Linked DNA regions of Homo sapiens: region 2 is linked to region 1. The links come from fine-mapping of genetic effects on gene expression. A gene starts in region 1. The other region holds a variant in brackets. All regions are shown on one strand. Distances are from middle to middle. Region 1 holds the start of DUSP3 (dual specificity phosphatase 3). Region 2 overlaps ITGA2B (integrin subunit alpha 2b).

Region 1 (16,711 bases):
ATGAAAAATTTTTTAAAAATTATACTTAAAAACTTTTACCTGTTTTATATTTTAGTGCTCTGCCTTAAGATTTTGTGTAGAACCATAAAGATTACATTGTCAGAGTCTTGACAAACAGGAAGCGAGTCCAATTGCTTCATGTGATAGAGGGAATGGGAACCTCGAGAGGCTTTCTCTGCCCAGACTTCTGTCTGGGAGGAAAAGGCAACTACTTTCTCTAAGGTTTTTTATTCAAAGGAACATAGCACCAATAGTGGAATTTAAGGCATCTGGGGGAAGGGGATATGTTTAGGGACTGTTCATTTGCAGGATCACTCAAATCTCAAAATGTCACCCAGTCATCACGTGAGGCTACCTTGAGATGAACACCCTAGTCCCCTGCTTTCTTAGAAGCACAAACCTTACCTCCTTCATTCAGGACCATTATGGCCATTCTACCTAAGAATATTCCTACCAGAACATTTCTGGTACTGGAAAGGTGTTCATCAATATCTACTGCATAAACAGTGCCATCATGGAACCTATAACTAGCTCAGAACGGCTATGTTTTAGATGATTATTTTTAAAAAGTTAGAAATCGCAAATATAAAAGCTAAGCCCAAACAAAAAAAGCTAAGCATAAAAACGTAAAAGAATACCAACTGTGATAAGAAGGACAAAAAAACAATACCTTTGTAATGTAAGACATTTATTTTGGCTAAAGTTCTGGTGTTTTAACACTGATTTGTGATACAACGGACATTAAACTTCCTTTTAAAAAGAAAAAAACAATTTGGTAGCTCTCCCTTTTCTGTCCAGAAAAATTCACTCTTTCATAATCAAATTACCCTAAAATTTGGTGGCGTTAAGAGGCAACAAAAGTTAAGCTTCCAACGAATCTGTTCTCTCAACCGGAAATGTCTTCTATTTCCAATCAGGATAAAACCTTGACTTACTTGCAAGGACTATCACGGTTAGCCCTTCAGTGATTCCTGACACCAGTTCTGTGAAAAAGAAAATTTCCTGCGAGAAAAGCTCATGTCTTCATATTGAAGATCAGTACTTTTTTTTTTTTTTTTCCTTTAAAACAGTAGCATCTTAACTTGTGGCACAAAAGGCACCAACATTCCCTTTCCAAACCATCCATCACCATGGGTGGAAGGCAGCGCCACCTGCTGCCCATCATATTATGGCTCACATACCCATAATTTCCTTGCGGTGCTGAATTCCAAGTGGGGATTATTAGAGACCCCTCAGAGCCAAAAGGGGACCTTAGAGGTCTTCTAGATGAGTCCCCTCATTTGTAGGTGGTGGTTTCTGGATAACTCAGAGTGGCAGGGACACAGACGAGCCTGTGGAAAGGTATACTGCTTTAAGATTGAGAAGAAAACCATTTGGCGCTCTAATTTTGCCTGGATGGTGCTCTGTCAGTCAAAGAAAGGGAACAGGTCTGGGGAGGGGGTAAGGGCACCCTGAGTTCCTGTTCCATCACTTCCCAGGCAGTAGAAGGCTGTCCAGGAACAGCTCCCATCCGCAGCTGGGCATGTGTTGGCTCTTACACAAGAGACTTTAATTTTACTTGAAGAACTAAGAGCTAAATCTTGTTAAGTAAATACGGGGTTTCAGGGGTGAAGGACTATCAAGAAATCCCAAGTTATCAGCATAAAAGTAGTCCCAAAGTAAAGGCAGTAATTCTCCCAATGGCCTTTTCTCCCTCATGCCCCCACAGAGACTTTCGAGAGGTCCTAGTTAGCCAGCCACACCAACCTGCTGTGTTCGCGTAAGTAGCTGTGCCTGTCCCATGGGGTGACCACTGCCTGGTCATGGGAGGGGAGCCCCAGCCCCAGCTCCCTAGCCTTTTCCAGGAGCAGAGCAGAAAGCTCTACTTCGGGGTGCTACATCCCACCTGGAGAAAGAGCTGCACATTCTAGCCTATGAGGGACCCACCCTTTTCACTTGCTTCTCCGGGGCTGGATTGAGGGTAAGTGCAGTACACCTGGAGATCCCAGGGAGCCCCCTTCTTGAGAAAGAGTATCGTATGAAAGAATCCAGCTTCAGGGAGCAGCAAACCCAAAATCTTGCCCAGCTCCACCTTATGGAGCTGGACAACCCTGGGGGCCAGGCCCTTAATCATTCTGAACCTCAGTTCCTTTTTTTTAAAAAAGGTCACAATACAAGAACAAGCTCTACTAACTTTACAGGGTTACTGTGAGGCTCAAGTTAGATTAAGTTGGAAGGCTACCTAGAAGCTGTGCAGTGAGGTACCCAGTTTAGAGGATGGCCATTTCACTTAGGTGGGTTTATCTGGACACCTTTTTCACTATCTGGAGAAGAAGACACATACTGGTTGTTCAGGGCTGCTGTGGTCACAGAGAAAAGCGGACAGCAAATGACCAGGCTGGGCAGGGCTGCTTCTGTGTGATCAGAGACCTTCCCAGCCGGGAGTGAGGCCTTACGCCACACCTGCCTCTCCGTGTCCCAGCCAGGAGCTCCTGGCCAACTCTGAAAAAGGCACATTCCCTACCTTGGCATATTAACACTGCCTGAATTTAAATGTAAAACTGAGTTGTAAATAGTCAACAAAAGTCCCTGATATTTCTTTCGTTTTAGGTAAGACTCCTTCACAAGGCCTTGCGAGTGATCCTACCATGAATTCAGTCTTCTGGGAGCGTGACACACCCACCAGAACAATGCCCTATATATATTTGGTGCTCAAAAAGTGTTTACTTTCTTAAACTTTTATCAGACACCTATGTGCAAGGTGCTGGGGGCATGGCTGAGGACCTTCTCTTTGCCCAGAGTGACCCTGAAGATAAATAGCATCACAATCACTTTCCATAATAACAATAACGTAAAATCCTAACAAGACTGTATTTAAAACAAAACTCTTATATTCTGGCAAATGTGCATACACATGTGAGGGCTGGTGCATTCCAATATCATCCTTAGAAAGTCTTTTGAAAGGTTTATCGTGTTTGGGTTTTTTTGCTCTACCACCAATAAAGGATCCATTTGGACACTCCGCCATGTCTCATGTCTGCCTGGCTGAGTCACTTCAGGGATCCCGTGCTGGCACCAGAGAGCTGTAAGAGCCACCTGCAATGGGCAGGGTGTGTGCCTGGGACCTTTCACTTCCCTGCTTGTCTTCTGGCCGCGTTTCTGAGAGGCACGCCCCCCACACACATCCATGCACACACGCTGTAATTGGCCAACTTCCTCCTTCTGTTCTTGGAATAGCAACCGAGACAAAAAGCAGTTAGCACGAGTGGCTTGGGCTTGCCAACACTACAATTCAGGACAAAACCCTTGTAATTCTCCAAATGGTGGGGTTTTTAAATAGGTTGGACTTCAACTCCCTGTTTTCTAAAAAAGAAAAAAAAAAAAGCATGCCCAAGGCATCACTCTTCTCAAAAACGAAGTGACTGAGATAAGATCGAAGGGAAATATTCCAGAGCAGCAGATTCTGAACTCAAGGCTTCCAAAGATTCACATTTTGAAAACTCTATGGATTTAGGAGGGTTCTCCAGGTTTGCCCACAAGGCCTCTTTGTGTAGGGACCATTCATCCTAAGGAAATCATTCAAATGCAGCCTTGCTGTGGGAATCTCCATCCACTAATAACTGACGGACACCCCCACCCCAGCTTCGGACCTCAAGACGTGAGAGGGCTGCCTATGCACAGGGTGTGGAAGGCTGTGGGGACAGTGCAGGGCACAGACGTGGTGGGGAGAGTGGCCTGCATTTGCATAGTTCCTTTACTAGGGCTCAAGGTGTTGAGGTCCACACTCAAGAGAGGATTCGGGAGTTGGGGAAGGGAGGTCATGAGGGACCTCTGTGAGCATCTTAGGCCTTACACTTCCACACACCTCCTGCCGTGGGCCATCGGGAAGCATGCAGGCCACAGGCCTTCCCCCTCTGAGCCCCCATCTCAGGGAAAAGACATCATAAGTTACAGAAACAGGACAACTGGGGAGCAAGGACGCCCCCCTTGGCAAGCTTCTTTATGTGCTCCCCAGGGTGGGGAAAGTGGCCCAGGACTGTGTTGGGACACACTTGTAGACAAGTGCCTTGTGATGCTGGGAGCAGGGTACAGTGTGTTTCCTAAACATGGCAGCTCGGGACACCTTTGCCCACGGCCTCCCCCACGGACCTCTCGAGCAGAGGTGGTGGGGGTGCCCTAGGGTTTCAACTTCCCCTCCTTGGCTAGTCTGTCATTGAGCTGGCAGAGCTGGGCCAGGAAGCCATCGTTGGGGCCGATCTCACGGTTCTGCCTCACGATGCTCAGGGCAGACTTGACGTCCATCTTCTGCCGCATCATGAGGTAGGCGATAACTAGCGTTGGGGAGCGGCTATAACCTTCCCGGCAGTGGACGAGCACCCGGCCTGTAAGAAACAGGGGAGACGTGGTGAGCTGGGGGCGTCCCATCACACCATGGCGTTGGTCAAGACTCTTCCGTGAAGTGCCACTTAAAAGCACAATGTCACGCCACTGTGTGCCTGTCAGAATGGCTAAAATGAAAAGGATGGAAAACCCAAAGTGCTGGTGAAGATATGGGGCAACTGGAACTCTTCTGCGTGGCTGGGGGAGGTGAGGCGTGAATTGGCACAACCACTTTGGAAAGCTGTGCGGCACGGCGGTATCTCCTCAAGCTGAACACGTGCATCCCCTCTGGCCCAGCAATCCCACTCCCAGGCCCAGGTCCAATAGAGATACGCATTCACATTCACGAACATGGGCCAGAATGTTCACAGGCAACACTGCACATCATGGCCCACAGTTAGAAACCCCCAAAGGCCCATCCACAGTAGAAAGGACAAATACAAAGAATGACCAGACTGCCACTTAGCAGAAGCAACACGGAGGCAGCACACACATATGAGGTGGATGAGCCCACAGAGTAGGAAAGCGGGCAAAACCATCTGTGCTGTCAGAAGCCTGCAAGGGGCTGGGCACAGTGGCTCACGCCTGTAATCCCAGCACTTTGGGAGGCCAAGGCAACTGGATCACAAGGTCAGGAGTTCGAGACCAGACTGGCCAACATAGTGAAATCCCGTCTTTACTAAAGATACAAAAAAATAGCTGGGTGTGGTGGCGCGAGCCTATAATCCCAGCTACTCAGGAGGCTGAGGCCAGAGAATTGCTTGAACCCAGGAGGCAGAGGTTGCGGTGAGGTGAGATTGTGCTGAGATTGTGCTCCAGCCTGGGTGACAGAGCGAGACTCTGTCTCAAAAAAAAAAAGAAGCCCGCGTGGCAGAGGCCCTGGGAGCTGGGGATGGGGGTGGTGGAGCATAGAGACTGGGGGTGCTTTCCAGGGTGCTGGTAGTGTTTTGTTTCTTTTTTTTTGAGATGGAGTTTCCTTCTTGTTGCCCAGGCTGGAGTGCAGTGGCGCGATCTCGGCTCACTTCAGCCTCCGCCTCCCGGGTTCAAGCAATTCTCCTGCCTCAGCCTCCTGAGTAGCTGGGACTACAGGCGCATGCCACCATGCCCAGCTAATTTTTTTGTATCTTTTAGTAGAGGTGGGGTTATTTTAATATAGTGTGTGTGTGCGTGTATATATATGTGTGTGTGTGTGTGTGTGTGTGTGTGTGTATGTGTGTGTATATATATATATATAAATAGACACCATCTCTCAATATCCACAGGGCAGATTGGCTCCAGGACCTCCTGCCGATACCCAAATCCACAGATGCTCAAGTCCCTGATTATAAAATGACATCATATATGCAAATAACCTCTGCACAGCACATCCTCCCCTATACTTTAAATCATCTCCAGATGACTTATGATACCCAAGACAATGTAAACATTTATTAGATTATATCATCTAGAGAATAATGACAAGAAAAAAAATCTGTACATGTTCAGTACAGACATAACATCTTTTTATGTTGTTTTTAATATTTTTCAGACTGAGGTTAGTTGAATCCACAGATGTGGAACCCACGGATATGGAGGACCGACTGTATATTCTATTGGTTCTGTTTTTTCTAGAGAATCCTGACCAATACACTGGTTATTAACTCATGATCCACCTAACCTCAAGGTGCCTCAGTTTTCTTATCTGGCCAATAGTACCCATTGCACAAGGTGGTTAGATTAAAGGAGAGGACACATGAATCCTCTAGGTTAGCACCTGGCATCCATGTGCACTCAATAAATGTTACCCAATACTGGGCATCCTCTGGTAGCACCTAGTACACCCTCAACTACAGCAGCCCTGGTCCTGTGTCATTGCCAGACATGCGCAGATTGACTTTTCTCTCCCAGAGGACGAATTCTTTAAGAGCAAGAAATGGCCGGACACGGTGGCTCACACCTATAATCCCAACACTTTGGGAGGTCGAGGTGGGCGGATCCCCTGAAGTCAGGAGTTCGAGACCATCCTGGCCAACATGGCGAAACCCCGTTTCTACTAAAAATACAAAAAATTAGCTGGGCATGGTGGCACATGCCTGTAATCCCAGCTACTCAGAAAGCTGAGGCAGGAGAATCACTTGAACCTGGGAGGTGGAGGGTGCAGTGAGCTGAGATTGAGCCACTGTACTCCAGCCTGGGTGACAAGAGCGAGACTCCGTCTCAAAAAAAAAAAAAAAAAAAGGCAAGAAATGTGGGGCATTGATTTTTGGATGCGTTACAATCTCTAGCATACACTATGTGCTCAATAAATATTTGCTGACTAGCTGAGTGAATTATTACCTACTAACACCTCTATAAGGCCATTGTTTGGCAAGGAATCTGCTAGCCCAGAGTCCAACAGAGTCTCTTCTGCTCCTATCACCCTACCCCCAAAACACCACTCTATTTTCCCAATGCCTTCCAAATCAGGAAGCAGGAGTCCTCCACTTTCTTGCCCATTCACCCTCCGGCCTGTATGCCCGAAATATTCAGAGTGGGGCTTCCCCTGCCCCACCCTAGGAATGAGACCCTCTGCAGAGCAGCCACCTTACCATCTAGAACATACTCTGCATGCCCAGTGCACACAGAGCCTACTGGGAAAGGGGCCAGTTCAACCTCCCATTCCTCTAGGCTCAGCCCAGATGCCACCTCCTCCATGAAGCTGTTTTCCCAGCTAGAAGTGACTGCTCCCTCTTGAGTACCCTCAGCCATCCCACCCAGCTCTCAGTGATGGGTCCCTGGGCCCCACACACTGTTGGAGGCCAGCATGTTTCTGTTGACTCACTTCGCCACTCATTCTTAGAAGCATTTATACTTGGCATTAGAGCCCATGGAATTCTTCATCACTTGCTCATTCATCATTTGCAGTGTACCTACTATGTGCCTGATGCTACATCAGGTGCTAAGGAGACAGACAAGGAACAAAGTAGACCCAGCCTGAGGGCAGGCTTCATGGAAGAGAGGACACCATGCCAAGGACAAGGTGGAGTTTGCCAGAGGAAGGGGTAGGGAGAGGCAGAGAGAACTTTTCAGACTAAAGACCCAGCACACCTGGACTGAGACAGGTCAAAAAAAGGGCGTGTTCCTAGTTGTTTGGAAAGAGGAAACAAAGTCAGAGAGCTTGAAATTCCCTGAATGAATAACCAATTGCTATTATACGAGAACAACAAAATCCTTCCCCTTCGCCCAGCCTATGTTTACACAGGGTGAGGAACTCAGTACAGCTGGAGTGGAGGAGGTGAGCAGGGTTGGGGGGTGACAGTGACCAGGAAGGACCATGAGGGGCCTGTCAGCAAAGTCTGCAGATACTCCACAGTAAAGCTTCTCTCTGAGCCCTGAGCGTTCACTGTCCAGTGGTCTAGAAAATTCTGTTTACTGGAAATCATTCAGACAGTGAGCCTGCTGGGCCCAAGAGTCATCAGTGTAGTACAGCCAAGGCTGTTCACACCTCATGGGGGTCCCCTCCGCTGGGAGGGTTTGGGGTGGGGAGAGACGAAGAGGTAAAGGGAGGAGCTGAGAGAAACAGCTAAAAGCAGAAAGGGAGAAAGGGCAAGTGGCCCAGCCTGCTCAGCTGATGTCTGCTTTGTGGCCTTCTAGGGTTTCTTGCTGGAATGCCTTGGTGACTGCCAGCGCCTTGGTAGTTCTCCTTCAGTCTTATCTTATATTTGGGGGCTGCAGGAAGTGTTTCGTAAGTGGCTGGAAGATTTGGCCAGGGGGGCTGTGGTTTGCTGACTGCCAACCTAAGCTGACCGCAGCTACCCCTTTTCTCCTTGCCAGGCAATCACGTGAATCTCTAGCCAATGAGATGTGAGGGGTATTTCTGGGAAATGTTTTACTTGTTCTTAAAGAGAGAGACTGGGCATGGTGGCACGTGCTTGTAGTCCCAGCTACTCAGGAGGCTGAGGTGAGAGGACTGCTTGAGCCCAGGAGTTGGAGACCAGTCTAGACAACATAGCAAGACCCTGTCTCTTTAAAAAAGAGAGAGAGAGTGGCCAGGCGCGGTGGCTCATGCCTGTAATCCCAGCACTTTGGGAGGCAGAGGGAGGCGGATCACCTGAGGTCAGGAGTTGGAGACCAGCCTGACCAACATGGTGAAACCCCATCTCTACTAAAAATACAAAATTAGCCAGGCGTGGGGGCGCATGCCTGTAATCCCAGCTACTTGGGAGGCTGAGGCGGGAGGCTGAGGCAGGAGAATCGCTTGAACCTGGGAGGTGGAGGTTGCGGTGAGCCAAGATCGCGCCATTGCTCTTCAGCCTGGGCAACAAGAGTGAAACTCCATCTAAAAAAAAAAAAAAAAAAAAAAAAGGAGAGAGAGAAGAGGAAAAAAAAGAGTGGGAAGAGATGGCTGCAGGGCCTCATCTGCTGTACTTTGTCCTGCTTGGATGTGGTGACTGGATCCCATCTTGGGACCATGACGGGAGCACCCAACACTGAGGTGGCAGAAGAGAGAAAGGGAAAGGGCCTGGTCCAGAGGCCACCATGGAGCTGCTGAATCAAGCAGCCCCTTAATCAACCAGCCCCCATGCTCCTTCACCTCAGGACTTCTTGCCATGCACATTAACACATTAACACATCTTCCTCATCGTTACAGCTGTTTGAATGGGGGACGTGTAAGCAACTGGAAACCAACCTCCAGCCAAAGTGCAGTCAAACGCGAGGACCCTGGGGCTGCCATGGTGTGAATGAGTTGCACATCCTGTGACACACGGGGCCACTTGACAGCCAGCCAGGTGAGCAGAGAGAGACCTACAGCTCTGTCGTTCACCCCAGAAGATGGGAAACAAGGGAGTTTCTAAGAAGAGACCTGTTGTGGGCCTGTTTTCCAGAGGGACAGTCCAGTCAGAGCTGCCTCCCATCTTTTCCTGGTGGGAGGTCCCTTACCATTCTTTTGAGCCAAAGCCTGGTCAATGAAGTCGGCAGCCCTTTCAAAGTAAGCGCTGAGGTTGAACTCCTGTGTGTCGTTGGCCTTGATGCCCAGGTATGTGATGCCGGAGTCCTTGTAGAAGTTGGCATTGGTGTTGACGTGCATGAAGGACCTGCCCTCAGCCGCGTTCAGCACATGGGTGATGCCTAGTTTCTGCAGCTTGGGGATGTCCTGAGCCACAGACCTGGACAGGAGACAGTGGTGGGGATGATTAACCAACCAAATGGCAGCCCCAGGGGGAGGAAGATGGAGAAGGATTTAAGCCTCTTAGCAAAGCAAGGAAACCCTCCATGCTCTGGCCCCTGCCAGCTTCTCCTGCCTCATCTTATGACCTCTTCCCTCACTCTGGCCATATCGAATTGCCAGCAGCTTCCCCAAATAGACTGGTGGTTTCATAGCCATGCTGTCCCCTCTGTCTGGAATGCTCTTTCCCACCTTCTCTGGAGAAATGCGCCCTCTCATCTTTCACACCCTCCGCAGTGTTTGTCTCCCCTCCATTCCATTTGGCCCCATGCTCCCTAAGCTGTGGTGGGGGTGTACATAGCCAACTGGTTACAGATGGGCTCTGGAACCAGACTAACTGGGTCTGCATCCTGCCCAGGTACTAGCCAGGCAACCTTAAGCAAGCCATTTAACCTTTCTGTGCCTCAGTTTCCCTCTCTGTAAAATGGGGATAACAGTGCCTTCTCCTTGAGGTTGTTATGAGTATTAAATGGGCTATTCCATTGACAGAGCTGGACACGGTAGTGAGCACTATGATTCTAATGCTTGATTGTGCTTCTGTGTTTAGACATCCAGACTGTGAGCTCCTTGAGAGAGGAACCATGTCTGCTTTAAGTCTGTTTCCCCACCATCTGCTATAGTACCTGCTACATAGTAGGTGCTGAATAAATAAGCGGTGAATGAGTGCAAAAGAATAAATTTGTCACGTACCAGGCAGCCCCCTCCCTGCCCCCAGAGGGATCCTACCTGCCACATTCCACTGGCTACGTTTCCAAAGCTCTTTTGGGTGATTTAGTACTTGGGGAGTAAGTGGCCCCAACAGAACTATGGGAGGTTACAAAATAATTTATCTAAGGTCGGGTGCAGTGGCTCACACCTGTAATCCCAGCACTCTGGGAAGCCGAGGCAGGTGGATCACCTGTCAGGAGTTCGGGACCAGCCTGGCCAACATGGTGAAACCCCGTCTCTACTAAAAATACAAAAGTGAGCCGGGTGTGGTGGTACATGCCTGTAATCCCAGCTACTCTGGGATTACAGAGGCTGAGACAGGAGAATCACTTGAACCCGGGAGGTGGAGGTTGCAGTGTGCTGAGATTGTGCTATTGCACTCTAGCCTGGGTGACAGAGTGAGACTCCGTCTCGAAAAATAAAATAAAATAAAATAAAAATAATAATTGGTCTGAATGGTGAAAAGGCCCCTTTATTTCATCTCACAAAACATCCCAGTCCAAATAGCAGTTTATACTTTATAAAATGCCACCTCCTGTGTGATCTTGCTTGCCCACTGCGAGCAGCCCTGTGAGGAACAAGGATGGCAATATCCCTGCTTAACAGAGCTTGAACTCAGGCCCAACAGGATGAGCAGAGGGATGGGCACAGGCCCCGTGTGCTGCTGGTGGCAGATCTGGGAGAAGACCTCCTTTCTCCCGACATCCAGCCCTGCTCTATCTTCCACCTCACTCTGCCCCTCATGCCCACATCTGCTGCAAAACCCCCAAGGCCTGGCACATGTGGCTCACACAGGCTCTGGCTCTGCCTTGTGAGGACGTGGCTGCGGCCCTGATTTTGTTAAGGGAATGGAGCCCAAATCCTCTTGGTGCTTGGTGCTCACTGATCCTCCCTGTTGAGGAACCCCCACACCCCTGGCCAAGTCAAGGTCAGAGGTGCTTAGAGGGCAAGGGATGTATTTTCTACAGTGGCCATCAGCAATTGCCACTCTGGCTACACCAGACGTGTACAACCTTGGTTTCCACTTGGGAAGTGATGACAGCTGAATGGCCAACCTGCCCAAGCAAGCGGGATTCCTGAGGCTAACAAGGCCTGCTTGCTGCTTGGTGCAAGAGGAAGGGTGTCTCTAGAGCTTTCCAATTCCTGAAGCCTTTGGCTGACACTGTGGGACTCTGTTTATTCCTGCTTAGGACACCGCGCAAGACTGTGAAGCAGTGGCTGATAGAAAAAAACACTTTGAAGAGTCACTCCCATTCATCTCCCTTCTCTAATACTTTTTTTTTTTGAGATGGAGTTTCGCTCTTGTTGCCCAGTTGGAGTGCAACGGTACGATCTTGGCTCACTGTAACCTCCACCTCCCGTGTTCAAACGATTCTCCTGCCTCAGCCTCCGGAGTAGCTGGGATCACAGGCGCCAGGCACCATGCCCAGCTAATTTTTGTATTTTTAGTAGAGACAGGGTTTCACCATGTTGGTCAGGCTGGTCTCGAACTGCTGACCTCAGGTGACCCACCCGCCTCGGCCTCCCAAAGTGCTGGGATTACAGGCGTGAGCCATCGTGCCAGGCCTCTAATACTATTAATAATTCAACATTCAAAAAATTTACAATTATCATTATTACTATCTCTACTATGAATGAACATTGTACAGTGCCTGACATAAAGCAGGTGCTCAGACTGGTGAATGAATGATGGAATGGATGAGAACTGTCCCCATGAGGCTGGGGCCTGATGGACCCCTTCTAGTTCCATGATGACCCCCATTTCCGTGGCAGTCCTTGGCAGGCTAAACAGCAGGTCATAGCGGAGGTCAGGAAATACATACATGAACAAGACATTGACCCTGTCCTTGTAGTCCCTCACACACTCTGAGCCACCATTTCCTCCTCTGTAAAATGGGAGGAGGGTTAGTTTTGAGTTTTCAACATGCCATCCTTGGGCTGAGCCATGAAGCTTAGGATTTTGGTAACTGGGTCCTCAGAGTATCGTGAAAATCCAACTTGAGGCTTTCCAAGGCTGTACAGGCATGCTAATATATTCTTTCTTGAGGCTCCTATTTCACATCTCAGAATGTTAACACTGGTTCTTTCCTGCTGATTAGACATTCTTACTAGAAAAAAAATTTAAAATTTAAATTAAAAAAAATCTCTTACTGTCCGGGTGCGGTGGCTCACGCCTGTAATCCCAGCACTTTTGGAGGCCGAGGTGGGCGGATCATGAGGTCAGGAGTTTGAGACCAGCCTGGCCAAGAGACCAGCCTGGCCAATATGGTGAAACCCCGTCTCTACTAAAAATACAAAAAGTAGCCAGGCGTGGTGGCGGGCGCCTGTAATCCCAGCTACTCGGGAGGCTGAGGCAGGAGAATTGCTTGAACCCAGGAGGCAGAGGTTGCAGTGAGCCGAGATCTCGCCATTGCACTCCAGCCTGGGTGACAGAGCCTGGGGGTGAAAGGTCAAGAGCCTTTTCTAGGTGGTGGCTCAGGTCCTTAGGGGGGTTATCACTGGACCGTTCTAGAATCTCCTGTAAATCAAATCACATCTGGAAGGTGGGGGCCTGGAAATCCCGGCCCAGCTCCCCGGACTCGCTCATTTGGGGTGTTTAGGTTCCCTGATCCGGGACTGCCGGGCCGGGAAAATTCCATGCCCGAATTGTGACGTCGGCCCGTTGCCATGGCGGCGAAGGCAGACATTCCGCGGTGACCTCACTGCAGAACCAGGCAGCTGTCACATGACGCGCGGGCAGGAGACCGGCCGGGCGACCGAGGGTCACCTGTTAAGTGAACATGGTAGCCCCGACCCCGCCCAAGGCCAAGCCCCAAGCGGGTGGCGGCTGGGACCCGGGCAGGCGCCACCCGGGCTCCGTGCACCCCGCCACGGGGAAGGGCCGCGCCCGGCCAGGCAGGGTTCCAGTTCCTTGGCCCCACGCGCGGGGGTAGGCGTCGACTCCAGGCCCCTCCCAAGCCCCCGCTGTGGCTCCCGGAGGGGCCATCGCGCCCGGGCTCCCCCAACCCAAGACTCGCGACACCCCGACCCCAGCCTCGGGTGGGCGGGGCGTCCCGAGAGGGACGGCGGGGCCGGGCTCGCGAAAGGGACTCACGCGTTGCCCACGTAGATCCGCGGGGTGACCTCGTTGCAGGGCTGGCTCGGGAGGCTGTAGCAGCCGCTGCCGTCCGAGAGCAGGTCGTTGAGATCCTGCACCGAGAGCTCGAACGAGCCCGACATGGCGGCGGCGGGGCCCTGCACGCCCGGCAGGAGCAAGCGAGGCGGAGAGCGGCGGATCAGCTGGGCGGGGGCTCGCGCCGGGAGCCGCCCCGTCCCGCCCCTGGGGCGGGCCCGCCGGGCTCCGGGAGCTGCGGAGCGCGGGCGCCGTGACGCGGGGGCCCCGCGCGCCACTCCTGGGCGCGTCCCGGGGGGAAGACGCCACCGCCCTGGAGTCTCAGGGGTCCTCGCCCCATCCCGGTCCAGGCCGTTTGTGTATCTTTGTAAACTGGCAAGCGCGGTAACTTCCTTCCCTGAATTAAATGCAGGGCCCAATAAACATTTCGTGGCGGAGGTACACCTAGGGGTCGCTTCAGTCTTTCATGATTACAGGGACCGCCGGGTTCGGCTCGTGAGCGGCTCCCTGCAGTGGAGGCACCACCCGGGCGCTTGACAGAATCCCCGCCCCAGCCCAGCCCTGCTGGATCAGAGTGGACATTTTACGGACCCCAGGAGGTCCCTACGGTCAAAGTCTGAGAAGCCCTACTCTGGGGCGCATCTGCTTTCAACATTCATTGAGAGTCATCGTCGTGCTTAAAAGCAGTCAGGTTTGGAATTCTGAGGAATTACTTAACCTGAGCCTGTTTGCAGGGAAAAAAAAAAAAAGCGGGATAGTAATGGTACCTAATTCTAGGGTTGCTGGAAGGGTTAAATGTGACATTCAAAGAAGGCACCCAGCACTGCATGGCGAGCACTCAATAGGTGTTAGTCCTTCATCAACAAATGCGTTGAGCACCCAGTGGGTGCTATACCCTGTGCTGGGGTGGAGATAAATCAGACTCCTGCAGCCCTTCCTGGAGCAGATGCCAGCCCACCATAAGCCACTCAGCATTTCCTGAACTCCCACTAAGTACAAAAGATAGTCTCTGTACTGGAGGAAAGCTGCCCTCCCCTACTGCCATGAAAAACTGGCAGTTTCCTTCCTGCAAAAGGGCAAATTTGGCCTTGAATTCAGGAACCCCACATCCTGAGCCCAGCCCTGCCACCAACTTGGTTCTTGAGTAACGTTGCTGCTGCTGTGGTCTTCAGTTTCCTCATTTGCAAAAGGAATTGGATCCGATTATCATTAGGGTCAACTTTCTCCTCCTCCAAAACTTGTGGTCTTGCACCTTCAGGGGAGCTATTGCAGTGGAGACTACTTAGCTGATAGCCCAAGATGTGTAACCAAGGCTGGAATTTCTGTATCCCTCACCCCACCCCGTGCCTGCCCACCCCTCCCGGTGCACCACTTCTTTCCTTCTGGTGTTGGCTGGCAGCATCTGCATTCTAAGCAGCGGGGAAAGCTTTCGAGTTCCTTGACCTTCATCTTGACTTGAGCCGAGGTTAGCATTAAAAACACAAGCCCAGAGGCAGCCAGCCATGCTCTGCTGCTCCTACTCCCTTCCCGGGACCTGTCCCTGATGTCATAACTGGGTAACTATGACAGCTTGTCATGGGGACAGCTAGGCACCTCACAGAGGAGTCTGGGTACCTCATTTCTGAAGTGAGACTAGGAAGAGAAGATGAACAATTCCCTGGATTATCTGGCCTACCCTGTTATCGTCTCTAATCACAGGCAAAGCACAACCTTCAGAAAGAAACTGGACTTTGGCCACTACGTATCTCACAAGAATAGAATACAAATAGGTATGTGGGCAGTTTGGGCTGGACACTGCTATTAGGGATTTTGGAATGGTACCCCATAAAGAGATCAACAGGAAACCAGACCAGGTCACAGCTTTGGGATGATATGGCCTTATCTGCTGAGTTTGGGGAAGAGGGCATTAGCACCAATAACAAAATGTATCTTCCACCAGGGAGTTCACTGGATGGAAATACTCCTTTAAACTCCTTAAAGCCGAAGTACGTTAGAAAGGGGATAAGACTTCAGAAGCCAATAGACAGGCTAATAATATTGGAAAAAGATTGGAAGAGAAGCTCTTTCATTGGATTAGAAGGACATTTATCTCTGTAAATTTTATTTTCACTATTCTTTTGTTTCTGCTCAAAACTCTCCAGAGATGTTCATTTGATAAATCAAACCAAACTTCTTGAGTCGCATTAAGGTCCTAATTCGAAATTGTTCATTAGTCAAGGACATTGTCTAGTGCTGGTTTTCTGAGGCCGCTACTGGAATTCCTGTGATGTAACATTGTTCCCTTTTATCCCCCTTCTCTAGCGAAGCCTACTGTTGATACCAAACCTCCAGTGGCGCACACAAATCACATTTTAAAATTGAGCAAACTACAGGTATTTGTTCTTGCTGCTTGCAGATGTGCAGATGTATTTTATTGACTTCCAGTCTGTTTCCTAAAGAGGTTCAATTTCCCAGAGCCTTCTAAATACCCATCTACTCAAAGATTTGTTAATACTCCTCCTCCCCACGCGTCACCCCCAGTCGTTTTTTTCCCCCCTGATACGGAGTCTCGCTCTGTTGCCTAGGCTGGAGTGCACAATCTCGGCTCACTGCAACCTCCGCCTCCCAGATTCAAGCAATTCTCCCGCCTCAGCCTCCAGAGTAGCTGGGATTACAGGCATGTGGCACCATGCCCAGCTAATTTTTCATATTTTTAGTAGAGACAGGGGTTCACCATGTTGGCCAGGATGGTCTTAGTCTCATTACCTCCCGCCTGCCTCGGCCTCCCAAAGTGCTGGGATTACAGGCGTGAGCCACCGTGCCCGGCCGCCCAGTCTTTTAAGTTCTGCTTCCAGTCTCCACTGTGGCCCTCAATGCACCCCTTTCCCACGATCTCAGAGGAGGGGAACACTAAGTCATTGTGTGTTGGGGCAGTGCACTGATGGTGTCACCATGGTGAGGTGTGGTTTCTTACCAGGGTGAACAAAAGAAAATCAACAAAATCGAGTATGAAAACAAGCAACTGTGTCAGAAAATCGCAAATGCCCATCGCGGCCCTGCCAAGGTGGATTGCTGGAATGAATATTTTTCCAAGAGGTAATGTTCTTTGTCTTCATTTCAGTTTTGAAAAGTCAAAATTGACTTTCCTCTTGGGTTTTAGTGTGAGGTTTTCCCAAGTCAGAGAAGTACTTAAGGGAAGTTATCTTGAGGGAGAACCAAACAGACCATGTTACACAGAATGAAAACTTTAAAAATGGGGACCTTTCTCTAGCATTAAAGAGCTTTTATTTCATCGAAGAGACTTTTCAGAGTCCTATTCAGTGTGTCACAAGAATGCACTGCGCACTTTTATAAAATGGTGGCCATGT
Region 2 (8,000 bases), 610 kb after region 1:
TGCTCCCTCTCACCTTCTTCTGCTGCCACCACCAGGGAGGCTGGAAAGGAGTTCCTGCAGGTGCCCAAGACCCCCAGAGAGAGTGTGATGCCCTGATTGGCCTGTGAGGTTTCCCCAGCGCCCCCTGGAGTTTAGAGCCCTGAATGCCATCTCCCTTCTCCACCCCTGGCCTCTCACCCTCGCAGCTCCACTTGGGCCTCTGCCCGGACCGGCACGTCCAGCAGCACAATCTTGCTGTTTGGATTCTGGCTGTTCTTGCTAGAGGGGAGGGGATGAGGAGAAACAGGGCCAGGGACACCAGCCCAGTGACTTTCTGGGGGTGAGGCCAGAATTTTAGAGAGTTCAGAGAGAGCTAATTATACAAAGAGCATGCCACACTGAAGTTAGACCTGGGAAAGAACTTCCTCTAGGGCTCCAAGACTCAGACATAAATCTCTGAGGAAGAAAGGGAACCAGGCTTCTTCAAAGACCTTTTTTTTTTTCTTTTGAGATAGAATCTCGCACTGTCGCCCAGGCTGGAAGGCTGGAGTGCAGTGGCCCAATCTCAGCTCACTGCAACCTCCACCTCCCAGGTTCGGTTCAAGCTATTCTCCTGCCTCAGCCTCCCGAGTAGCTGGGATTGTAGGTGCGCACCACCATGCCCAGCTAATTTTTATATTTTTAGTAGAGATGGGGTTTCACCATGTTGGCCAGGCTGGTCTCCAACTCCTGACCTCCAGTGATCCTTCTGCCTTGGCCTCGCAACGTGCTGGGATTACAGGTGTGAGCCACTGCGCCTGGCCTCGAAAGACCCTTCTGTATGGAAGGGACCTGAGGGGCTCTGCACGGGGGTCAGACGGGGGAAGGGTGGTGGGTAGGCACGCTCGCCAGGTCAGTACCTCCGTATCTGCAGCTGGAAGGACACAGACTCCCCAGCCTCTTCCAGATTCCCCACGCTCACCAACATCGCGATTCCTATCTGGGAGATGAGGAGGGCCAAGGTCACTGCCCAAGTGCCCCACTTAGGACAGCCCTGCCCTGAATGTGGCCTCCAGTCTTCACCCTCCAAGATCACCACTATTCTTTTTCTTTTTTTTTTTTTCCGAGACGGAGTCTCACTCTGTCACCCAGGCTGGAGTGCAGTGGCATGATCTCGGCTCACTGCAACCTCCACCTCCCAGGTTCAAGTGATTTTTCTGCCTCAACCTCCCGAGTAGCTCTGACTATAGGCGTGCGCCACCATGCCCGGGTAATTTTTGTATTTTTAGTAGAGACGGGGTTTTGCTATGTTGGCCAGGCTGGTCTTGAACTCCTGACCTCGTGATCCACCCGTCTCGGCCTCCCAGAGTGCTGGGATTACAGGCGTGAGCCACCGCACCAGGCCACCATTATTATTTCTATTTTACCTGGAAGCCCACTGGGTAAAGGGGCTCAGAGAGGGAAAGTCACTCACCCAAGGACATGTGGCAAGGGAGTGTGAGGACCAAGATTCTGGCCCAGAACTATGTGGCTCTAAAACCTCACCCCTAAAATCTGGTTATTCATGAGCCCCTGGTGGAGACCCGGTACCACGACCCAGCAGCCTCACCTGGGCGTTCTTCTTCATGGGGTTGCCCAGCTCACACAGCACCACCCTGGTCTCATTCTCCTTCTTCTGATTACAGATGAGTCTCTCAAAGCCCTTCAGGAAGGCAGTTCCAAGAAAGAAATTACAGAGCATCATATATATATATTTAAGCTCCCTTGGAAGGTCTGGAAAGATTTGTGTGCCAAGGTAGGGAGGGGGGGGTTTCTTGGGGTGGGGTCTCAAGGGACTGTCACATGCTAGTGTGTGTATTGCTGTAGCACTACTACTTTTTAGGCATTTTCATTTTGGAAATAAAAAACACAAAACATTAGAGTATGACCCCCATTATTATAAACTATATTAACAACATAAAAAATAAATATATACTTATGTGAGTGTGAGTCAATATTGAAAAAAAGACTGGAAGGAAATCCACCAAATGTTAACAGAGGTTCCTGTTAACATTTGGTTCCTAAACCTTTTTTGTTTTTCTGGTTTTTGTAATAGAGTTTTGGAATTCTGTGCCATTAGCAAGTATTCCTCCTCCAAATTAAAAAAAAAATAAAAAATTACATCTTTGACAGCAAAGCAGAAGAGAAGAGGGACTCTCAGGGAGGGAGATGAGAGAGCCAAGGCTCCAGTGCCTCCCAGGTCCCGGGTACTGTTCCCAGGGTGGGGGCCATACCTCGACATTGCTTAGGGCCCGCATGTAGTGGGCGCCCTGGGGCAGGTGCACGGCCAGCTCTGCTTCATAGGCCCCCTCGCCCTCGTTGGCTGCGTCCATCTGCAGCTCCAGGACATTATCTGCCCCAACTAGGAGCGGGGAGCCCGTCCTGTGGGGAAAGAGGAGTGAAGCCAGGGAGCCTGGGTCTGGGCCCAGGATGTGGGAAAAGAGGGGACTAAGGTGTGGAGCAGGTATGATAGGCAGAAAGGGCCAGGGTCGGGCAGAATGGGAGGCCTCCTCACACGCTGGCAGTGAGCTGAAGCTGGGGCACACATACGTCATCTTCCCCACAGTCCAGGACGATTCGTGTCTAGAGGGGCACATTGGGGTGTGCGGGTAAGTTGGGGATGTGTGAGGTTTAGGGATTACATCAGGGTTAGGAAAACAGTGGGCTTGGGGTTCACATAGGGGCTTAGGGAGTAAGAAGATCTGAGGACGAAAAGGAGTTTGTAGATGGTATCGGGGCTCGGGTTTATTTGGAGGTTTGGGACAATGTCAGGGTTTGTCAATTTACATCAGAGCTTAGGGGATACTGGGATTTTCAGGTGTTTATTTTATTTTTGGAGACGGAGTCTCGCTCTGTCGTCCAGGCTGGAGTGCAGTGGCACTATCTCGGCTCACTGCAAGCTCCGCCCCCCGGGGTTCACGCCATTCTCCTGCCTCAGCCTCCCAAGTAGCTGGGACTACAGGTACCCGCCACCACGCCCAGCTAATTTTTTTTTTTTTTTTGTATTTTTAGTAGACGGGGTTTCACTGTGTTAGCCAGGATGGTCTTGATCTCCTGACCTCGTGATCCACCCGCCTTGGCCTCCCAAAGTGCTGGGATTACAGGCGTGAGCCACTGCGCCTGGCTTTTTTTTTTTTTTTTGAGACAGAGTCTTGCTCTGTCACCCAGGCTGGAGTGCTGTGGCACACTCTTGGCTCACTGCAACCTCTGCCTCCTGGGTTCAAGTGATTCTCCTGCTTCAGCCTCCCGAGTAGCTGGAATTACAGGCATGCGTCACCACACCCGGCTAATTTTTTTTGTATTTTTAGTAGAGATGGGTTTTCACCATGTTGGCCAGGTTGGTCTCTAACTCCTGACCTCAGGCAATCTGCCTGCCTCGGTCTCCCAAAGTGCTGGGATTACAGGTGTGAGCCACCATGACTGGCTGGATTTTGAGGTTTTCATTAGGGTTTGGAATGACATCAAGGTTTTGGGGTTCACATTGTGACTTGGCACTAACCCTAATCCTGATTTGCTATCAGGGGTCCTGCACCTCCCTGGCCTGTCCCTGCCTGTCCCTACCTGCTCCTGCACATGGGTGTCTCCATGCAGCACGACAGCAGGGGCCATTCCAGCCTCCGTGGG[C/T]GGTAGGGACACATTGAGGCTGAGCACAATGGGGCTCAGCTTGTCCCGGAAGTCTGCCTCATCCTAGGACAGGGGCAAGAGTCAGGCCATCTTGCTACCATACACATCCCACCTTCTCCTGGCCAGTAGGCACCGTGTCCTGACCACCCCCGGACTCACAGCACCCAGCTCAGTGCCCCAGGGCTAGATGAACAAGTCCAGTGGGTAAGTTCTACTCTCCCAGCCCTGCCAATCCCCTGCCTGGGCGTACTCGAAGGAAGGCCATGGTGGTGTGGCAGATGGGGCTGTGCTTTCCGCCCAGATCCAGGTTCAGGGTGGTGCCTGCCTGTTGAGAGCCCAGCAGCAGCACCCGCCGGCCCTGGCGGGGCTTCTGCCGGTCCAGCTGCAGCTCGGCATTTAGGGCTGGCAGGGCAAGCAGAAGAGTCAGGACCTCCCTGGCCAGCCTCCGGGGGAGTCCAAGCCCACCTCCCTCCTGCCCCCTTCATGCCACTCACATAGCTTCTGAGGAATGTTGTGCCCAGTGGCTCCAACACACATCTGGATGTTGAAGCTGCAAAGACGTAAGTGGGGCTCAGGGGTTGGAGCCTTTCTGAGGTCCCAGATCCTTTAAGGCCCATGCCCTCTGCCTCCTCACCAGCTCACGGGTGTCTTGGTCTGAGGTAGGACACAGCTCTTCACAGCAGGATTCAGTGAATCTTGCACCAGTAGCTGGACAGAGGCCTTCACCACTGGCTGAGCTCTGATGGGATAGGGTGATGGGGTAGGCTTGCCATTGTGGCTCCTCCTGGCCTGGCCTCCTCTTGATGGCACAGGACCTTCCCCATCCCGCCCCTGGAGCCAGTGCTCACCTGTACACAGCCACCTGGTTGGCCCCGTAAGCTCCCACGATCAGGTCTATAGACATCGAGGAATGGGTCAGAATTGGCGATTAGGGCATGGGATCCTCATCTCATCTTCCCAGGGGTTCCCCACACCACCTCCCCCACTGGAGGTTTCACCCAGCCCCTCTGGCAGTCCATAGTGGGACACCAGGCCAGGCATGAGCCCCTGGCCGTGTCTCTTGGCACTTCCAGCGAATGTCCAAGGGCCTTTCTTGGGCATTTCTAGCTGGAGGCAGTCCAGGGCACCTGGGTATCCGTTGTCATCGATGTCTACGGCACCTCGAAGGGAGAAGCCAAAGGCAGAGCCTGTGGGGAAGGGGCTGTCCAGGACCTGGGAGGGACGTGACCTCAGCCCCTCACTCTGACCCAGGAACACCAGCACTTGGCCCCGGCCACTGGGACCCCCGTAGGGGGCAGCCACTGCAATGTCTGGAAGGAGTAACAGAAAGGAAGTGGCTGATTGTTATTCAGCCTCCCTAGATGACTGTAAAACTTTCCTGAGCTTCTCTGGGAACATCCCAGGAGACTAGGAAAGGGGTGCAAAGTGTGGGTGAAGGAGGCACTGCCCTACCCTCCAGGAGTTAACAATCAGGTGGGAGAGGGACCTGCCAAGTAGGATTGTTATAAAAACAGTGACAACTCTCACTGTCTATTGAGGAAAATATATCCTGAAAATTAAGCATCATTATTCCCTTTTCTAAATTTTTTTTTTTTTGAGATGGAGTCTCGCTCTGTTGTCCTGGCTGGAGTGCAGTGGTGCGATCTCGGCTCACTGCAACCTCTGCCTCCCCCGTTAAAGTGATTCTTGTGCCTCAGCCTCTTCAGTAGCTGGGATTACAGGCGCCTACCACCATGCCCGGCTAATTTTTGTATTTTCAGTAGAGACGGGGTTTCACCACATTGGCCAGGCTGATCTCGAACTCCTGACCTCAAGTGATCTGCCCACCTTGGGCTCCCAAAGTGCTGGGATTACAGGTGTGAGCCACCGTGCCCAAGCCCCTTTTAAAATTTTTTTATTTTTAAGACAGTCTTGCACTGTCATTCAGGCTGAAGTGCAGTGGTGCAACCATGGCTTACTGCAGCCTCAACCTTCTGGACTAAAGCAATCCTCCCACCTCAGCTTCCCAAGCAGTTGAGACTATAGCCACCATGCCCAGCTAATTTTTAAAAATTTTTATGGAGACGAGATCTCCCTATGTTGGCCAGGCTGGTGTCAAACTCCTAGGCTCCAGTGATCCTCCTGCCTCGGCCTCCCAAAGTGCTGGGATTCCAGGTGTGAGCCACCGTGCCTGGCCATCTAGCATCTATTTCTAGCCTTCTCCATTCCATCAAACTCCCAGACCCCCCACACTTCCTTCAGCAGGTGACGTAATCTCTTACTTCAGGAAGAGAGGCAGCCCACTGTTATGCTATAATCCCACACCAACTTTCTTTTCCCTTTCCCCATTTGACCCTGGAAGAGGTTTCCTTCCTTCACCCTGACACTGGGCCAGTCACCCTCCCACCCCCTGAGGCATCACAGGGACTCTCTGCTGGCTCATCCCCCCATTTCCCCACAACATCATTTTCAACCTACTACATGTTCTTCCACATTGAAATAATCTTCCCTTGACCCTCATCTCTTTTCTGTGATCACCTTTTCTCTTTTTCCTCTTATAGTCAAACATGTTTTTTTTTTTCCTTTCTATTCCTCAAATTCCTTTTTACCACAAACCTGTTGAAAGAGCTGTCTACATTAGCTGCATCCAATTTTTCATCTCCATTCATACCTTACCCCATTGCATTCTGGCTTCTGACCCTATCTTGGCCTGAATCAATTTATGTCACTGTCACCAATAACCTCCCCTTCTTTTTTCTTTCTTCCTTTCTTTCTCTATTTTTTTTTTTATTTTGTTGAGATGGAGTCTTGCTCTGTCACCCAGGCTGGAGTGCAGTAGTGGCGCAAGCTCAGCTCAGTGCAACCTCCACTTCCCGGGTTCAAGAGATTCTCCTGCTTCAATTTCCCAAGTAGCTGGGATTACAGGTATGAGCCACCATGCCTGGCACCCTCTTCTTGCTAAAGCCCATGAATATTTCTCCAGCCCCACCTAATTGTATCTTGCAGCAGCAGCAGGAGCTGCAGCGCCCACTTCCTCCTGTGCATGCTCTTTAACGCATGCTCTTCCTTGAGTCCCGGGCCATCAGACCCCCTGGGTTCCCTCCTCCCTCTCTGGACACTCCTCTGTCTCCTTCTCAGACTTACCTCCTGTAGGAGTCACCTAAATGCTTTTGCTCCCTAGGGCTCTATCCTGGGCCTCTTATTTCACAGGTCCCGGGACCTCATCCACTTTCCCCAAACCCCTGTCTCCCATTCAGATCTCTCTTGTGGAAGCGGGGAGAGCCACTCCCAACTGTTCTTTGGATATTTCCGCCTAAAGCACCCAAGCCCTTCAAGCTCAACAGGTCCAGAGCTGAACTGCTGATCTCCCGCCTCTCCCCAGCACCTGCTGCACGGCCTGAGTTCCAGGCAGTGGAGGCCATCACAGGCACCCAACTCCAACCTCTCCCCTGGCCCCACATCCAGTCTCCCACCAAGTCCTAATAATCCGAGTCCTAAATATCTGTGAAGTCACTCCCATCTCTAACTCCACTGCCAAAATCCACATCCAGGTGGTCATTGTCTCTTGCTTGGATTAAGGCAAACACTTCCTAATTAGTCTTCAACTCTCCCATCTGCTCTCCACTCAGCACCCCATGTGTCTAAGCCACATACTTATATGCTTAAAACCCATCCTGGTTCTGGCTGCCCTCAGGCCAACTCCATGCTTTTTGAGTGGCTGTTAACCCCTCTGCAGCAAGTAGGGCTCCTCTCTTCCCTCACCATTGTAGCCATCCCGGTCGAGGTCGCCCAGGGGTGCGATGGCAGAGCCGAATCGCCCATAGAGCTGTGTGCCAGTCAGCAGGAGGCTGGGGGCACCCAGCGCGTGGGGGCCTCGCGGCTGCAGGAACAAATACACACGCCCCACTTCGGCCAGTTTTCGGTCTGCCCGGCTCTCCATATACAGTGGAGCGCCCACCAGCAGATCATGCCTCCTGTGGGCCAGATGAGTGGTTACATGGGACTGGACCAGGGGTATATTGGGGCTAGGGCCAAATCTCCTCGACCCTTGCTCTCCTGTTCCTCCAGTGGATACGTGAGACTAGGGCTAGGAAAGGGAGACAGAGGGCAGCTCTGGTAATTTGGGACCCAACTGGGTAGGGGTGGGGCATGTCCCTCCTCACCCATCCCCGTTGACGTCAGTGACAGCCACTGAATGCCCAAAATACGACGCCATCTGCAAGATGAGGAGCACCATCATTCACGCCGCTGGACAAGCATCCTCTTTAAGAAATGGGCCCTCACCTCCCATGAAATATTCTGAAGTCTCAGTTCCCCCTCCACCCAGCCACGCCCACTGGGACCTGGCCCCCACCTGCTCTCCGCGCAGCCGATGCAGCCTCTGGTAGTAGGAATCCAAA

Evidence for each region. PIP is the estimated chance that this variant, and not a neighbour inherited with it, causes the effect.
Region 2: its variant is fine-mapped to the expression of DUSP3 in whole blood (INTERVAL, PIP 0.95).

Annotation. Positions count from the first base shown.
Region 1 is chr17:43,765,454-43,782,164 of GRCh38, forward strand. It overlaps DUSP3 (dual specificity phosphatase 3), which reads right to left and starts at 13,524. Exons shown (of 3, transcript NM_004090.4): 1 at 13,347-13,524; 2 at 9,259-9,485; 3 at 672-4,361. The coding sequence starts at 13,471. The coding sequence ends at 4,156. CFAP97D1 (CFAP97 domain containing 1) reads left to right here and starts at 14,982. Exons shown (of 6, transcript NM_001136483.3): 1 at 14,982-15,133; 2 at 15,666-15,736; 3 at 16,321-16,439. The coding sequence starts at 15,010. RefSeq lists an enhancer at 12,788-13,082 and a silencer at 13,015-13,704.
Region 2 is chr17:44,376,131-44,384,130 of GRCh38, forward strand. It overlaps ITGA2B (integrin subunit alpha 2b), which reads right to left. Exons shown (of 30, transcript NM_000419.5): 10 at 7,955-8,000; 11 at 7,764-7,816; 12 at 7,363-7,574; 13 at 4,749-4,931; 14 at 4,470-4,515; 15 at 4,256-4,360; 16 at 4,116-4,171; 17 at 3,872-4,023; 18 at 3,559-3,684; 19 at 2,513-2,580; 20 at 2,232-2,379; 21 at 1,568-1,660; 22 at 879-958; 23 at 178-258; 1 more. Among named protein-coding and RNA genes, the nearest start is that of ITGA2B, 9.5 kb to the right of the region's middle. RefSeq lists an enhancer at 3,327-4,283. The variant C/T (reference allele first, on the strand shown) is at 3,622.